2 separate regions of the Homo sapiens genome follow, and region 1 is linked to region 2. The links come from fine-mapping of genetic effects on gene expression. Tissue or cell type: whole blood. Region 2 holds a variant in brackets; the other region holds the start of a gene. All regions are shown on one strand. Distances are between the middles of the regions.

What was found. PIP is the estimated chance that this variant, and not a neighbour inherited with it, causes the effect.
Region 1: it holds the start of CHST11, and the variant in region 2 is fine-mapped to the expression of CHST11 in whole blood (INTERVAL, PIP 0.98).

Annotation. Positions count from the first base shown.
Region 1 is chr12:104,453,615-104,461,761 of GRCh38, reverse strand. It overlaps CHST11 (carbohydrate sulfotransferase 11), which reads right to left and starts at 4,814. Exons shown (of 3, transcript NM_018413.6): 1 at 4,233-4,814. The coding sequence starts at 4,350. RefSeq lists silencers at 3,276-3,335, 3,496-3,635, 4,226-4,505, 4,546-4,715, 4,796-4,925 and enhancers at 4,026-4,075, 4,996-5,075, 5,096-5,145.
Region 2 is chr12:104,572,698-104,580,872 of GRCh38, reverse strand. All of the region lies in intron 1 of CHST11 (carbohydrate sulfotransferase 11), which reads right to left. Among named protein-coding and RNA genes, the nearest start is that of MIR3922, 15 kb to the left of the region's middle. RefSeq lists an enhancer at 649-758. The variant C/T (reference allele first, on the strand shown) is at 3,717.

The DNA of each region.
Region 1 (8,147 bases), 120 kb after region 2:
TCTTTAAATAAAGGATATAATCTTTCAATACATTCAACCGAGGCAAAGAAATCCCAGGTGACAGTGAAAATAAACATTTTGCAAAAATAAAAATAATAGAGAGGAAGCAGACAGGAGAGAAAAGGCTTTCTCCTCTGAAGGCTTCTTTCTATGAACAGTAGATTTCAAACAAAAACCACAATCCTATGGAGTAACACAAAAGGAAGGTTCTGAAGAGCTGCCTTTACACACTCTGTGCCAATGCAGCCTGGGGGGCCTCTCAGCTTTGCACTGCATGACACAGCTCCATCAAAACCCAGCCATCTGGGGCAGGTATGCAAGACATTTTAATGCAAGCTGATGAACTTGCATAGGAAGCATTCATTGGTGAACTCAAACCTGTGTAGAAATCACAGGTATATGGTTCCATTCTCCCTAGCTTTAGGAATAGTTCACGGCCATAGAAGGTGTCTGTTCTATGGATGGATTTCCTTAGAATCCATCTAAGTGGCTAAACAAGACCAACCTTCTCCAGAATCCAGGACACAGAGCAGTGCCTCAGCTGCCTACACCTCACGGGCTGCAAATTTAGGTCACGGTGAAAGCTCCTGTCTGGCGCCTGATTAGTTTAAACTGGGTCCGTGTCACAGTTCAGGAAGGCAGGAAGTTTCCCCACCAGACAGAGCCAGAGTTATTGACCAGGCATTCTTGGCAAGGCTAGAAGTGACCTTCCTGAAAACCAGAGAAGTGGGTCTACTTCTGGAGTTTAACCACTTCATGCATTCATCCAGCAAACATTCTATTGAGAACCCACTGTTGTCAGACACCGTGCAAAAAACATCGGGATTAAAATGGAGTCTAAAACCTGGTCCTTGCCCTATAAAATATTCTTAAGGAAGACTATTAACTCAGAGTATCAAAAACTTCTAAATGTAACTATCCTACTGACAAGGCCCACTTCTGCTAAACCCTTGTGCAACTGATGACCAATTACTCAAATTTGCAAATTAATCAATTCTATGAATTAGAAAAGATAATGGGCCCCAGATTAGAATCAGAGAGAGGGACAGCCAGCCTTGCCAGCTGTCTCCTTTTTGTCTCTTTTTTTTTTTTTTTTTTGAGACACAGTTTCACTCTGTCGCCCAGGCTGGAGTGCAGTGGTGCCATCTTAGCTCACAGCAACCTCTGCCTCCTGGGTTCATGCTATTCTCATGCCTCAGCCTCCGGAGTTCCTGGGATTACAGGCGTGTGCCACCACACCCAGCTAATTTTTGTATTTTTAGTAGAGATGTGGTTTCGCCATGTTGGCCAGGCTGGTCTCGAACTCCTGAGCTCAAGTGATGCACCCGCCTCAGCCTCCCAAGGTGCTGGGATTCCAGGTATGAGCCACCGCGCCCTGCCTTCCTTTTTTTCTTTCTCTCCCTCCTCTCATACCCTCCAGCCACCAACGAAGCCTGGAACCCATTGCTTTTGCAATACTATTTTTCTATTTCACATGTAGGTATCTGGAACCCCTGCCAGAGGCCTCCAAATTTTTAGCTACACAATCCGTGCCATGCTGTGGTCCCTTCTGCCTCTCCCAGGGTGATCTGGAGAGACAGAAACTGCAGAGCCAGGCTGAAGGATCAGCTCTCCTTACCCCCAAGATACTTCAGAGAAGCAAGGATCTTTAACTTTTAAAGAAATTCAAACCAGTGAAAGAGATTCCACATCAGTGGTCATTAACAGTGTAGCTTAATAAAATGAACCCCTCAAAAAGAAAATGTTTAATGTAGATTTGAAAGTATATTTTTATGCCCCGTGTAATGATAAACTGTTGACACAGAGCTTTTGTGGACTGTAAGTAATCTGAAATAAGGAAGGCCTTTCAACTGAACTATCTGTAATTCTACATTCAACACAATGTTTTGAAAGTAGTATTTGCTATGGACTGGAGGGAAATATCAGAAAAGTATATTTATAGAGATCTAAATAATAAACAATGGGAGAAAATAGGACTAGAGGGGGACATAAAGGATGGGGCAGGATCATCGACAGAGGATCTTTTTCAGCACAAGCTTAGAAAAGGTTCTCTGCCTCTTCCAAAAGGCTAGGCTGAAAAGATATGATGTCACTTTCAAGTCAACTTAAGACTAACAAGGGCTGGAAATTTTCACAAAGTGACAATTACAAGTTGGAAGTTTCTTTCTAGTATCTTTGGCTAGAAAGTTATTTCCCAATTCTCACAAAGAATTCCATGACAATTGTATTTCCCTGGGCAATTAACAGGTACACAGAAGCTCAAGCGCATTCCTGCTGAAGGCTGACACTCATCCGTGTTCTGGGCATTCGTACAGAGCATTACTGGCATTCACGGTCCCAGCGAAACCTGAACACAGCTCTAGAGTCTAGACCAAATCACCGGCCCCTTGTTTAAACTGTTTGAACCCGAGTGTATCTGTACACCACCAGTCCCCTGGCGCTCTGGGGTGAGTCTGGCCCGGTCTCCGGTGGGCCCTGGAGCTTGGCACTCTGAGATACCCCTGGCTGTCTGGCCCTGCCCACTGCAACCAAGGCCTGCCTGCCGGAATGCAAGCCAGGTCCATTTTTAAATTCCTTTATAAGTTTCACAACCGCAGGTTTGGGTGAGGAGACAAACACCGCTGTAGTTTGCTGACATTAAACTAAAAATACCCAGCTGCAAACAAAAGCCATCTTTAACAGGGCTGGCTCGGACGTCCTGAGGTTACATGTGGTAGAGTCGGACCATATCCTTGGCAGTGTGGCTGCCTTAACAACTGCTCCAGACCGAGTGGGGCAAAGGGGCCGTCTGTCCCTGCGCTGTCAAGGAATCTGCAGCCTGCAGCCCTGCCTGTTTGATGGAAAGAACAGCTTTATTCCTCTGCCATCGACCCAAACGCAGGCTTGATGAATTCGGGACTGCGTCTGTTTAAAGTGTTAGATACACAGTGAAAGGAGAAGGCGGGAGGCAAAAATGAAAAACACCAACCCCACTTCCCTGGAAGGAAATGCGTTTCCACCTCCCTCCTCCTTGCAATTAGAAAAGCAAATTATTGCTGTGACTACGCTGAGAAAGGCAACTCGGAGGCGTAGAAAATGGATTTCTGAGCCAACGTGGCCCGGCAGGGGGCTGCTAAGGGAGGGTAAAAGGGAGCAGGGGAGCCACGGCTTGGCGGGGAGACCCGCGTTACCCGGAAGGCTTCTCGGAACGTTCTACCTGTTGGGCTTCGCAGCCGAGCTGCTCACCCCCGGCCGCCGCGCTCGAGGGCGCCCCTCCCTCTCCAGAACCCAAACTTTCCCTCGCACCCCTAGGAAGCGACGAGCCTCGTCCCTCCCCCAGTCCAGATTTCGGACGTGGAACTTTGCCTGAGCCACAAGGGACCGGAGGAATGGGGTTCATTCCCACGCCGCCCGGGGGATTCCCGTTGCTCGGATCCCAGAAGTGGGGGATGCAAACGGACGGTCAGCCCAGGACCTGGCCAAAGTTTCCTCCAAAACTGCAGTGGTCAAGGCGTGACCCAGGAGCTCGGAGTTTCCAGCTCAGGGCTGGGGGCTGGAGCAGGCCCCGGGGCACCAGCCGCAAGGTCACTGCGGAGCCGGACCCCGGGGGCAAACGGCCGGCGCGTGGTGGAGGGGCAACGCTGGGCACCCGACCACTCTCCACACCTGCTCAGCTCTGCGCGGAGCCCGGGACACGTGGGAGCCCAGTCCCGGGCTCCCAGCCTGCTGCAGGGACTCGCAACCTCGCCGGGGCGTACACCCTTCGCCCCCGGCCCGGCAACCAGGAAGAGGCGGCTCGCCCGGGCGCAGAGCAGCCGGCTCCGGGTAACTCTTTCATCCTCCGACCTCGGCAGCAGCAGGGAGGGAGTTTCGTTCTCCTCAAACCAGCCCCTCACCCCCGGTTGCTTCCCACACCTCTCCGTTTCCCTGCTACCTCGCAGACAGACAGACAAGGGACACAAAGAAAAAAAGAAGAAGAAAAAAAAAAAAAAAAAAACTACCGCCCCTCCTGGTCCCATCCTCCAGCCCGGAGCCGGTAGGAAGAAGAGGGCGAAGCACACCTTCCCTTCTCCTCCCCATCCCGACGCGGTGACCCGGGTAGATCTGGGCAGCCAGGAGCTCTGGGCAGCCAGGAGCCCCGAAGAGGCCGAAGGCGGAGAGGTAGGGTTGGAAGAGGCAGAAATCAGGCGGAGCGAGCTAGAGCGCGAGAGAGAAGAAAATATCCAACAAAACCACGCTAACGCGCCCCCTACCTGGGTGCAACATACTTTGGAAATAGAAGATGACCAGGATAAAGGATCCCAAGCAAGTGGCCAGCACCATCCGGCAGATTCTGTTCATCCTCATCACTTCCAGCAGCGCTGGCTTCATGGCTTTGTCCTGGCTGCGGGGACCGGGGTGTCCGGGAAGCGCGCCCGGGGCGCAGGAGCAGGGACCCCGCCGCGCGGACCGGAGCCCGGGAGGCGCGGGGCAGAGCTGAGCAAGGCTCAGAGGGAGGATCGGAGTCGCTTCGCGGCCGCTCTCGGAGCCCCCAGCCCGGGCAGGGGTGTGGAAGGTGCCGGAGTTGGTCTGGAAGTGCTGAGATGCGTGGACCCGCTGGCTGCGCGCTCCTGCTCCTCCTCCTCGCCGCTCCGCCGCCTCCTCCGATCCCGCCGGCGGCCGCCGCTGCCTGGTCGCGGGCCGGGCGGCTGGGGTGCGAGCGGTGATGGTGGTGCCGCCGCCGCTGCCGCTGCGCTGGCCGCTGTGGCTGTCCGACGGGCCCTCTCCCTTCTCTCCAAAGGCTACTTCATTGCGCTCCAACGATCTATATATTCCGGGGCTGGGTTTTACCAAATGCAACTCGCGGCCCCCGGCGAGGGGAGGGCGCCTGCGGAGAGCCGGGAGGAGGGAGGGACCCTAGCGCCGGGGCGGAGCGTCGCGCTCCCCCCGCCCCTACCCGGGATATGGTCGCGTCCAGCTGTTGCCCGGGGAGTGCGGTGTGCGCGCCGCGCTCCCGCAGGGTCCCAAAAGCCCTCAGTCCCCGGCCGGGCTCGGCCGCCGTCTGGAGGTTGTGTCAGCGTTTCCATGACAAAACCCGGAGGAAAAAAAGACGAAGAAAATCGCCTCGGTGCTGCCACCCACCCCCGCCAGCGTTTGGAGAGGGAAGTGGCAAGCAGCGGGCTGGGTCTCGGAGGGAAGAATTAAGGGTTAGGGGGTTTCTGGTGGCTGGCAATTATTTAAAATCCCTGGGCGACGTAGCGGGGAAGTTGCCCCAAACCCCCAGGGAGCGAGTGCCCATTTTCCGACGCTCAGAACTGGGCGGTTTCGTTTTTCTTTCAAAGGACAGCCCAGCTTGGGAGTCGGGGTTAAAGAGGGCTGACTTAAAGTCAGGGTTAAGGAAACTGCACGACCCTCGGGTCAGGCGACAGCTGAGCTTTCCCGGGGACTTATACAGACAGAATCTCTGACACCCACCATCACCACCATTCCTCAAGGCAAAAGGGATCTGTGGGTTGCAAAACTCTGCTACCCCAAAGGGTAGAGCATCCTCCAAATTATTCAAAATTAACAGCAGTCTTAGCTGGGAGGGGGTGAGAAAATGCCCCTAGGAAGCCACCTCAACCAAGTCCAGAAAACTGCTGGAAAAGCCAAGCCAGCCATAGCACTGGCAGGTACATGGAAAGATGGTGCTGCTTTCTTGTATTGTGTAGAATGACTTCCAGTTTCCAATTCCATGCATTTAGGCTGTTTCACAATCAATAAAGTGGACACAGCCAATAGTGTAGGGATCACTCGTATGTCAGGGAAAAAAAAAATGTTAGTTAGACTAACCTTTGTGCCTTATCAAGTCATTACTAATTCAATTAAAAATGAAATAAGATACTGTGTCTTTCAATGCCTCTCACAAAATAGGCATTTGATAAATTCTTATTGAATCTGAATGTAATGGGCCTTATCCTCCCCTCGATAGACAGAGACACAACTTGCAGTTAGACACATGCAACAAAAACCACCTGGGCAACCTCAGTTCCCTTCCCCCAGAGTTCTCCTCCAGCAGTTGCATGGTGGGGAAAGTAACAAACTCAGCAGCCTTGCCTTTGATTACAGAAGACAATCAAAGCACAATATTTATGTAGCCGGTGTGCGCTGTATTAATTTGGACTTACCTGTGAATAAGTTGCTTGCTCAAGGAAGCCAGGCTGAACAAGCTTCAGACAGAGTCGTTCTCCAGTGATTCTTCTGCTCTGGTGATAGGAGATCAGGAATGGGAGTTGCACTGCACCCTCCCCACCTCCCCACCATCATCACTAAGAAAGGGGATTCCTTGCAGAGGGCATGGCTTAGATGGGCATTTGCACAAAGCCTTTGCCTGGAATATAAGTCTCTCATTTAACACTTGGCTTTACAGAGCCAGGGAGGGGAAGGGATTTACTCCCAGGTCACCCAAGTGACCTCTCACCTCATAGGCCAAAGACTTCAGTTACCTGCCCCAAAGCCTGGACATGCACAAGGCAGTTTGGGAAGTCACAGGGTCAAGGAAGAGATCAGAAGTCCAATTCCCTGTGAGTCACAGAGATCATGGAGTTGGCCCACATGGTGGGGGAGGATGGTGAATCATGCCCAACATCCATTCTTGCATTCCCACAATCAGGAACCTGCCCAAACACAGTGAGGATTAAGGCTGTGACACATAAGCTACCACCTCTCCCAAGAAGTCTTTGCTGTTTTCTCACCTGAAATTGCAACTTTCCTCCTCTGCGCTGTGAGCACTAGGTCCAAACCTCTTTTGGGCCACTGTACCCACTAGGCTGAACTCCTTCCTGGAGATCCAAGTTGTCTTCATCTCTGTCTCTTTCTAATGCCCAGCACAATGACTGGTACATAGTAGGTACAAATAAGTCAGAGGCAGAGAGGTAATGCCTACTTGGACTAGGAAGTTAGATTAGATCACCTCTAAAATCTATGACAAAGGTCAGTGGTAATGGTCTGTGATTCTGTTGTTCTATGCACATTGAGGGGTGATGAAAAAATTCTGTTTTCTCCTTCATCACACTCTAAACTGCCCAACTACAGTTAGAATCATTGCTTTCTTTCCATTCCTAGCCTAAGAAAATTTTGTTACATCTTATGCTATATAATAAATATTAGCCAAGTAAAGGACAGTATTAACTGATAAAACTGAGGAGAAAAATTTTATACTTTGAACATTGAAAGAGGAACGGATCAGTCTTCAGATCCTTTCTCCCTCATCTTTCTAAATTCCCTTTTGCCCTGAAAGATTCTGCAGATTGGCATTGTGCTCATTGTGGGACCTGGCTTGATTGATTGACTCTCCAAATTCAACAACATGCAAGTGAAACTGGGGCCTGCATTTTTGTTTTGTTTTGTTTTGTTTTGTTTTTGAGACGGAGTCTCACTCTGTCGCCCAGGCTGGAGTGCAGTGGCGCGATCTTGGCTCACTGCAAGCTCCGTCTCCCGGGTTCACACCATTCTCCTGCCTCAGCCTCCCGACTAGCTGGGACTACAGGCACGTGCCACCACGCCCGGCTAATTTTTTGTATTTTTTAGTAGAGACGGGGTTTCACCATGTTAGCCAGGATGGTCTCGATCTCCTGACCTCGTGATCCGCCCACCTCGGCCTCCCAAAGTGCTGGGATTACAGGCGTGAGCCACCGCGCCCGGCCAGGGGCCTGCCCATTTTAAAGCCTGGCATGGCCCTGAAAAACTGGTTGAGGAGAAAGTCTTATTTATGTTGACGATCTTGTAGAATTTATAGCAGGGGAAGAAATCGGTGTGAAGTCACAATTCGGGCTTCTGGGTGCTGTTGTCAATGGACTGACAGATGTTTATGTGGCCCTTCCAATCCGCGCAGGCTGAGCGCCTCCTCATTCCGGCAGATTATACCTACAATGCACTGTCTTGTTACGATCTTGCAAACCTGGCAACGATGCCCTTTTCTGCACCTTGTTGGAGAGAAAAGTGGGCCCAGGGTACTAGTAGACAGAGAGCTCTTCAGCATCCTTGAAGGGAGAGAGGGATGTGTCTTCTGCCAACATCAGCCAGGGGCCCCAGACTGGCTCCTCCAAGGACTGGCGCTGCCATTTGCATCTCTCTGGCACCTCTAGCACAAAGGATACTCAGTTAACCAGAGCACAGTAAATATTTGTGAAGTTGAATTATAAACCATT
Region 2 (8,175 bases):
TGCTTTTAATCCCAGCACTTTGGGAAGCCAAGGCAGGAGGATTGCTTGAGGCCAGGAGTTCAAGACCAGCCTGGACTTGAAACCCCGTCTCTACAAAAAAAGAAAACAAGAAATATGAAAATTCCCCTTCCTTCCAACTGAAGTATGGAGCCTCAGAAGACTGAGCACCCATTTCTTGACAAAATCCTCCTGGCCCAGCTATATCCTAGAAGTAAATTACAACAAGTAGAGAGAAAAAATTGGGCTCCCAAACTTCCAGGAAGCTTTGCATGGGGCACAATCCTAGCTGTTATAGAGGTTGAAAGTTAAGTTACATATTTTTCTACCATTCTCTGATTGTGTCTGACATACTGAATATTCATTTATTTTGCCTTTAATTTATCCATAATCGACATGTCTACCATGCATGAGGGCTTAAAGCTCCACTGAAATAAATTACATCCCATGGTATTTAGAAACAGGCAGCCTAACATCTAATCTAATTGACCTAATTAACCCTTTTCTTAAATGCCCATGCTTTACTATATCAGCCAGAGCATACAGTGAACGCTTTTGGCTTTATTGTGGCTGAACAATATTAGAAACTTTAGTCAAATCCAGAACCCAATCTTTAGTTTCAATTTCCTTTCGTACTCCAGCTCAAGCCTGAAATCTTCCTTCTTGTAAACAAAAACCACAAAAGATATTCTATCCCCCATTCCCCAAATGTAGGGGGAAAGTCACAAATGATGTCTGGCTTCAATCCCCTAATGAACTAGCTGAAGGGCCTTGAAAGCAAAAAGACGACGCTTTTATTGAAAGTTCAGGCCTTTTTCTTCAAATGTCCATTAGAATAAAAGGGACTGGTAACTTAGGGATGATCTTATGTGATCATTGTCCACAGTCTTCAATTATAAGCAATGATTCTGTGTGCTCCTTGATGACCAAAGCTGGTGGAGAGTACGGTAATTAACCCAGATGATTCAGAAGCAGCAGAGGATCCAATGCATCACTTCTGGTCATCTTGATACTGCTAGACCTTAGACATTTAGCTTTTATCTCCAATTACATTTTGGCTTAAACAGTTATTCAAATTACCTTCCATCTGTGGGATACAAGCTGGTTGGGTGTAGTGGGTCTACACAATTAGAGCGGGCAACAGATTTAAAGCAGGCAATGTGTGGATGTGCCCTCCCCTGCCGGGCTGCTGAGGAATACACCCCGGGGAGAGGGGCGGCGCATCCACACATTGACAAATGAAAGTTACCCACGTTACCATGTATCATTCTCTTGAAATTACATTTGAGATAAAACAGTAAGATAGTAGCCCATTTCTGACATGGGAATGATAATAACGAATGCCTGTTTCATTGTCTGTTCCGACATGTGCTCCACACTCATCTTCAGTGTCCCTCATTTTAAAGATGAGAAATCCAAGGTCAGGGAGGTTAAGTGATGCCCCCAAGGTCACAAGATCAATCGCTGGCATCTCCACTCTATTGATGCAACAAAAATGGAGGCTGGGCAACATCAAGTGACTTGTCCAGGGACAAGAGCAAAGTGGTGGGGCAAAGACTTCAACCCAGGTAAATTGGACCCAAGTCTAGTCTTATTCCCTCTACACAACAACTGCCTCCCACATGAAGGCTAAAAAGAAAGAGCAGATATTCACTGAGCAACCACATGGTACTAGGAGCCCAGGAATGGAGGAGGGGAAACAGACCCAACCCTCGCCAAGCTTAAAGAGCAAGCAGAGCTTCTGCTCTTCTTCAAGCATCTCTCTCTCATTGCTTAAGGGTAACAAGGAAACAGGGGCATGTAACCAAGCCCTTTGATAAGTACCTGGGCACCTTCTCATGGCTTCTTCTGGTCAAAGACAGCATCAAGTTGCTTTTTGTTGCTACTTTGAGTAGGACCAGGCCCAAAATAGGCCCTCAACAAACATTTTGCATTACGTGAGTTAATTAATCCAGCTTTGAAGCTGAGACAACTGCATGTCACAAGAGCCTAACATTTTCCTAGCTTTTACCTGAGAACATGAGGGGTTTGGCTCTCACATGGCAGTCTATCTCCAATTAACACTGTTGGCTTTTCACAGCCTCCTCAAGAATTCCTATCTCTCTATCTCCAATTAACACTGTTGGCTTTTGCCTCCTCAAGAATTCCTGTCTCAGAGAGCTTGCTGAGCGCTTTCCATGGCTTACATGTGAATCACTTTTCACACTGCAAGGACAGTGACTAAATAGTATCAGACAGGACTTAGGGATTCTGGGACAGAATAAACCACGCCAGAAAGCCGATGACTCAATTCTCCACTTTTCAACTCGTGCTGTCATCCCAGAGAGACAGCCAACGGACCCAGCGCTCTCATCACAATAGAGGCAGGGGGTTCTGAAAATGCAACCAGAAAGATAAAGATCTTAGGAAAGACACTCAAACAGAAAGATCTGCTCAGAGCCAAAGATTGATTCTACCCAAATGCAGGAAAAGAAAAATGGAGAAGTCACCAAATCTATAAATGATTTTCGGAAGAATATTCAATTCAGGAAAACTTATCGTTAGGTGTATTATATTACAAGGCATCTAGTTCAACGGAACTCGGGGTTCAACGACTGGGAAGATCCGAGCAGTGGCAAGTCAATGGGTCTGGAGACCAGGAAGTCAGTGATGGGCTGAGATCCTAACCAGCGATGTGACCTCAGGTCAGAACCACCCCCTGTTGCTGGGTCTTGATATCCTCATCTATAAATAAGGGGGGATTTAGTCTATATAAGATTCCTTCCGGCTGCAAAATTCACTACTTCTGCACCTCCCAGTCCACTCCCTTCTACCGCTGTGAAGTTCACCAAAATTCCACTGGCACCGTGCTCCAGCCCTGAACAGGCTGGCTTTTGTGGACTTCCCTCAGTGCATGGTAACCACAGAAATAAACCCAAATACACCAAAAAATGTAAAGGGGTCGTGAGTGCTGTTGTACTTATGAAGTCAGCAGTGTGAAATGTATAACAAGATTGTCTACAGATCTTTTGTTGACACGTGGTAAGAAAAATCTCCTCTTCAGTATAAAAAGGCCCATTTGTTTGGTTCTCAACCAGATCGGTCTTGAGTCAGCGGCATTTGAAACTGGAGCCCCAGTCATAACTGTGGGCTGCCCTTACCCGACACACACATAGGAGGAAAATTTGGATTTTTCACAGATATCCTCTATTCTGCCATGGGAGCCTAGGAAAGCAGGGGAAGTTGCCCTTGGCATTGACCAGACAATGAACTCATCATCCTGCTTCACCCAGAAATAGAAATGAAGTGTTAAACGTAGCTCACTAGTGTCTGCCTCAGCATTACAGACTGAAGTTAAGTTGCCTAAGAAAGTACAGAGTGGGAATGCTTACTTAATCCATGATAATGTAGCCTACCACCCCGATAATCCCACCACCCCACTGTCATCTGAAAGCACTTATTAAGCACCTAGTGTGTACACAGCCCTTCTTTCCTGGAGTGTTCCAAAAAGAGCTCTCAAGTTTGGGCTGCATGAACACAACGTGAATGTACTTCATGCCACTGAACTGTACACTAAAAATGGTTAAAATGGTAAATTTTATGTTATGTGTATTTTACCATTTTCTTAAATACCAAAAAAAAAAAAAAAAAAAAAAAAAAAATGAAGGGCTGCAGCCCTCAGATACACGAATCATACCGGTGCAAAACAGAAACACTCTGTCAGGCAGATATTTCCAGCA[C/T]GTCCCCAAAGTGTCTGGGGCTGCTGATAATAACCTTTGCCCTGGCCCTGAGTGACCATGGTCTTTTGTTGAAGCACCCCACCTGGAGCCTTAGACTGAACCCACAGTCATTTCCACCCCTCTGGAGTCTTAGTACCGAGGTCCAGGGATTCTCCAATATGAATGTTCCTGGCACCCTCACCCCTGCAATGCCACCACCCTGAATGTCTTCCTCAGAGCACTGTCCCCACCCGACATGGCCTCATCCCTGTCCCCAGTTCCTCCTCCATCCCTTAATGGCAACATGAATGTTGGAGGAACGTGAATGTCCCTCAGCGCAGCCTGGAGTGGTGTCAATGCAGATTCCTAGGCCCCCAAAATCCAGATCCGGATTCAATAGGCCTATCTCGAGGCCCAGAAATCTGCCCTTTTAAACACATTCCAGGTGATTTTTAAGGATTTGGGAATGATTTAAAGGCCCTGGCTAAATGGAAGTGGGTGGTTGACCAAATGCAGCCTTCTCCTGGGCTTTGGAAATGACCAGAGACTGCAGCCATGGGAGGTGCTCCCAGCTCTTGCTCTCCAGTTCAGAGCTCTTCTCTGAAGAACTTCTCTGAAGAGTCCGTTGCTCTTTTCCAAGTTCTGTGAGGCCCCTGACCAAGTCCTTGAACAAGTAACAGGCTCATATATATGGTTCTGCCACCTTTCCCTTTCTAGTGGACGGTCACCCGGAACCAGAACTCCCAGATTCCAGGCCCAGCCCTCCACCACACATTTTGCATCACTGCACCTCAGTCTTCCCCTCTGCAAAATGGGCCTGCTAATACCTGCCCTGGCTTCCGCTAGGCCCACTGTGTCAGGGATTCCAGCCCCTGTTCTTCCAAGCGTGTGACCTTGGGCTCCTTAGGTTTCACCTCTCTGGGTCTCAGCTTCCACATCTTGAAAGCAGGAATAAACACAGTACTTAGTTCATAGAGTTCCTGGGAGGACACAGTAGGCTAAGGCAAGAAAAGCTCTCCTGCCACTGAGAAGCACAGTGAATACTTAACGTGAACCACCATCACGCCTGTGAGTAAGTTGACATGGATATACTGTACTTGGGAGGGAACAGGCATAAGAGAGAACAGTTCTCACACTTCTATTTTAGAGACCAAAGCTCATGCACACATGCCACCCACCCACCCGAGGGCCATGGTTTGTAATCACAGGGTGGGTGGCATTCGTGCATGAGCTTTGGTTTCTAACAATAGAAGACAAGAATGAATTTTGAAGAAGCTAACCCTTTTATTTACAATGTTGAGTTCCTCTACTCCCCAGGCAGAGACCAAGGAATACCCCGATAAGCAATTTCTGAGCACTGCCGAAGTAGGAAAGGGCAGGACGGGCCCTTCTGACGAAGCAGTGGCCTCCAAACCTGTTGCCTGCAGAACAGCCTCCTTCAGAAGAGGACCACTCTGTGGCTCGGCATCCTTTACCCTGACAGCTGGCTCATGCAGGCCAGGCTGCAACCTGCACTCCACCCAACCCCACAGAACAGCACCTGCTGGCCACTCAGCAGCTCACTCAGAACACACCCAGGAAACTTCCTTCAAACGGACAGATGTTCCTGCTCCCAGGCCTTTCTTTGCCTATCAGTTGTCTAAGTTAAGACCCCCTTCACCCGGATTATCACAGAGGACTCGCAGAGGCCTTCCTGGCACCCTCATCCCTGCAATGCCACTACCTTTCATGTCTTCCTCAGAGCACTGTCCCCACCTGACATGGCCTCATCCCTGTCCCCAGTTCCTCCTGCATCCCTTAATGGCAAGCTCCTGGGGCCTTTTCTGTTCATAGCAAGAACACTGTCTGGCACACAGCAGACACTCAGAAAATACTTGTTTACTGGATTGTGTATCCTGTTTAGGGCAAACACAAAGCCCCGTCACCCTGGGATCATCCCAGTTTATGCCTGTGGGCCTGTGGTCCTACACTCTTTTTTTTTTTTTGAGACAGGATCTCACTCTGTAACTCAGGCTGGGGTGCAGTGGCACAGTCTCGGCTCACTGCAACCTCTGCCTCCTGGGTTCAAGTAATTCTTGTGCCTCAGCCTCCTGAGTAGCTGGAATTGCAGGTGCATGCCACCACGCCGGCTCATTTCTTTGTATTTTCAGTAAAGATGGGGTTTCATCATGTTGGCCAGGCTGGTCTTGAACTAGTGAACTCAAATGATTCACCTGCCTTGGCCTCCCAAAGACCTGGGATTACAGGCATGAGTCACCACGCCCGGCCTCTACAGTCATTTTTAATAGTTCCTTTTTCTTTCTTTTTTTCTTTTTTTTTAATTATACTTTAAGTTTTAGGGTACATGTGCACAATGTACAGGTTTGTTACATAGGCATACATGTGCCATGTTGGTGTGCTGCACCCATTAACTCGTCATTTACATTAGGTATATCTCCTAATGCTATCCCTCCCCCAACCCCCACCCCACAACAGACCCCAGTGTGTGATGTTCCCCTTCCTGTGTTCAAGTGTTCTCATTGTTCAATTCCCACCTATGAGTGAGAACATGCGGTGTTTGGTTTTTTGTCCTTGCGATAGTTTGCTGAGAATGATGGTTTCCAGCTTCATCCATGTCCCTACAAAGGACATGAACTCATCATTTTTTATGGCTGCATAGTATTCCATGGTGTATATGTGCCACATTTTCTTAATCCAGTCTATCATTGTTGGACATTTGGGTTGGCTCCAAGTCTTTCCTATTGCGAATAGTGCCACAATTAACATGTGTGCATGTGTCTTTATAGCAGCATGATTTATAATCCTTTGGGTATATACCCAGTAATGGGATGGCTGGGTCAAATGGTATTTCTAGTTCTAGATCCCTGAGGAATCGCCACACTGACTTCCACAATGGTTGAACTAGTTTACACTCCCACCAACAGTGTAAAAGTGTTCCTATTTCTCCACATCCTCTCCAGCACCTGTTGTTTCCGGACTTTTTAATGATTGCCATTCTAACTGGTGTGAGATGGTATCTCACTGTGGTTTTGATTTGCATTTCTCTGATGGCCAGTGATGATGAGCATTTTTTCATGTGTCTTTTGGCTGCATAAATGTCTTCTTTTGAGAAGTGTCTGTTCATATCCTTCGCCCACTTGTTGACGGGGTTGTTTGTTTTTTTCTTGTAAATTCGTTTGAGTTCATTGTAGATTCTGGATATTAGCCCTCTGTCAGATGAGTAGATTGCAAAAATTTTCTCCCATTCTGTAGGTTGCCTGTTCACTCTGATAGTAGTTTCTTTTGCTGTGCAGAAGGTCTTTAGTTTCATTAGATTCCATTTGTCAATTTTGGCTTCTGTTCCCATTGCTTTTGGTGTTTTAGACATGAAGTCTTTGCCTGTGCCTATGTCCTAAATGGTATTGCCTAGGTTTTCTTCTAGGGTTTTTATGGTTTTAGGTCTAACATTTAAGTCTTTAATCCATCTTGAATTAATTTTTGTATAAGGTGTAAGGAAGGGATCCAGTTTTAGCTTTCTACATGTGGCTAGCCAGTTTTCCCAGCACCATTTATTAAATAGGGAATCATTTCCTCATTTCTTGCTTTTGTCAGGTTTGTCAAAGATCAGATAGTTGTAGATGTATGGCATTATTTCTGAGGGCTCTGTTCTGTTCCATTGGTCTATATCTCTGTTTTGGTACCAGCACCATGCTGTTTTGGTTACTGTAGCCTTGTAGTATAGTTTGAAGTCAGGTAGCGTGATGCCTCCAGCTTTGTTCTTTTGGCTTAGGATTGACTTGGCAATGCGGGCTCTTTTTTGGTTCCATATGAACTTTAAAGTAGTTTTTTCCAATTCTGTGAAGAAAGTCATTGGTAGCTTGATGGGGATGGCACTGAATCTATAACTTACCTTGGGCAGTATGGCCATTTTCACGATATTGATTCTTCCTATCCATGAGCATGGAATGTTCTTCCATTTGTTTGTATCCTCTTTTATTTCATTGAGCAGCGGTTTGTAGTTCTCCTTGAAGAGGTCCTTCACATCCTTGTAAGTTGGATTCCTAGGTATTTTATTCTCTTTGAAGCAATTGTGAATGGGAGTTCACTCATGATTTGGCTCTCTGTCTGTTATTGGTGTATAAGAATGCTTGTGATTTTTGCACATTGATTTTGTATCCTGAGACTTTGCTGAAGTTGCCTATCAGCTTAAGGAGATTTTGGGCTGAGACGATGGGGTTTTCTAGATATACAATCATGTCATCTGCAAACAGGGACAATTTGACTTCCTCTTTTCCTAATTGAATACCCTTTATTTCCTTCTCCTGCCTGATTGCCCTGGCCAGAACTTCCAACACTATGTTGAATAGCAATAAAGATCTAAAACTGACACCCTAACATCACAATTAAAAAGTAGAGAAGCAAGAGCAAACACATTCAAAAGCTAGCAGAAGGCAAGAAATACCTAAGATCAGAGCAGAACTGAAGGAGACAGAGACACAAA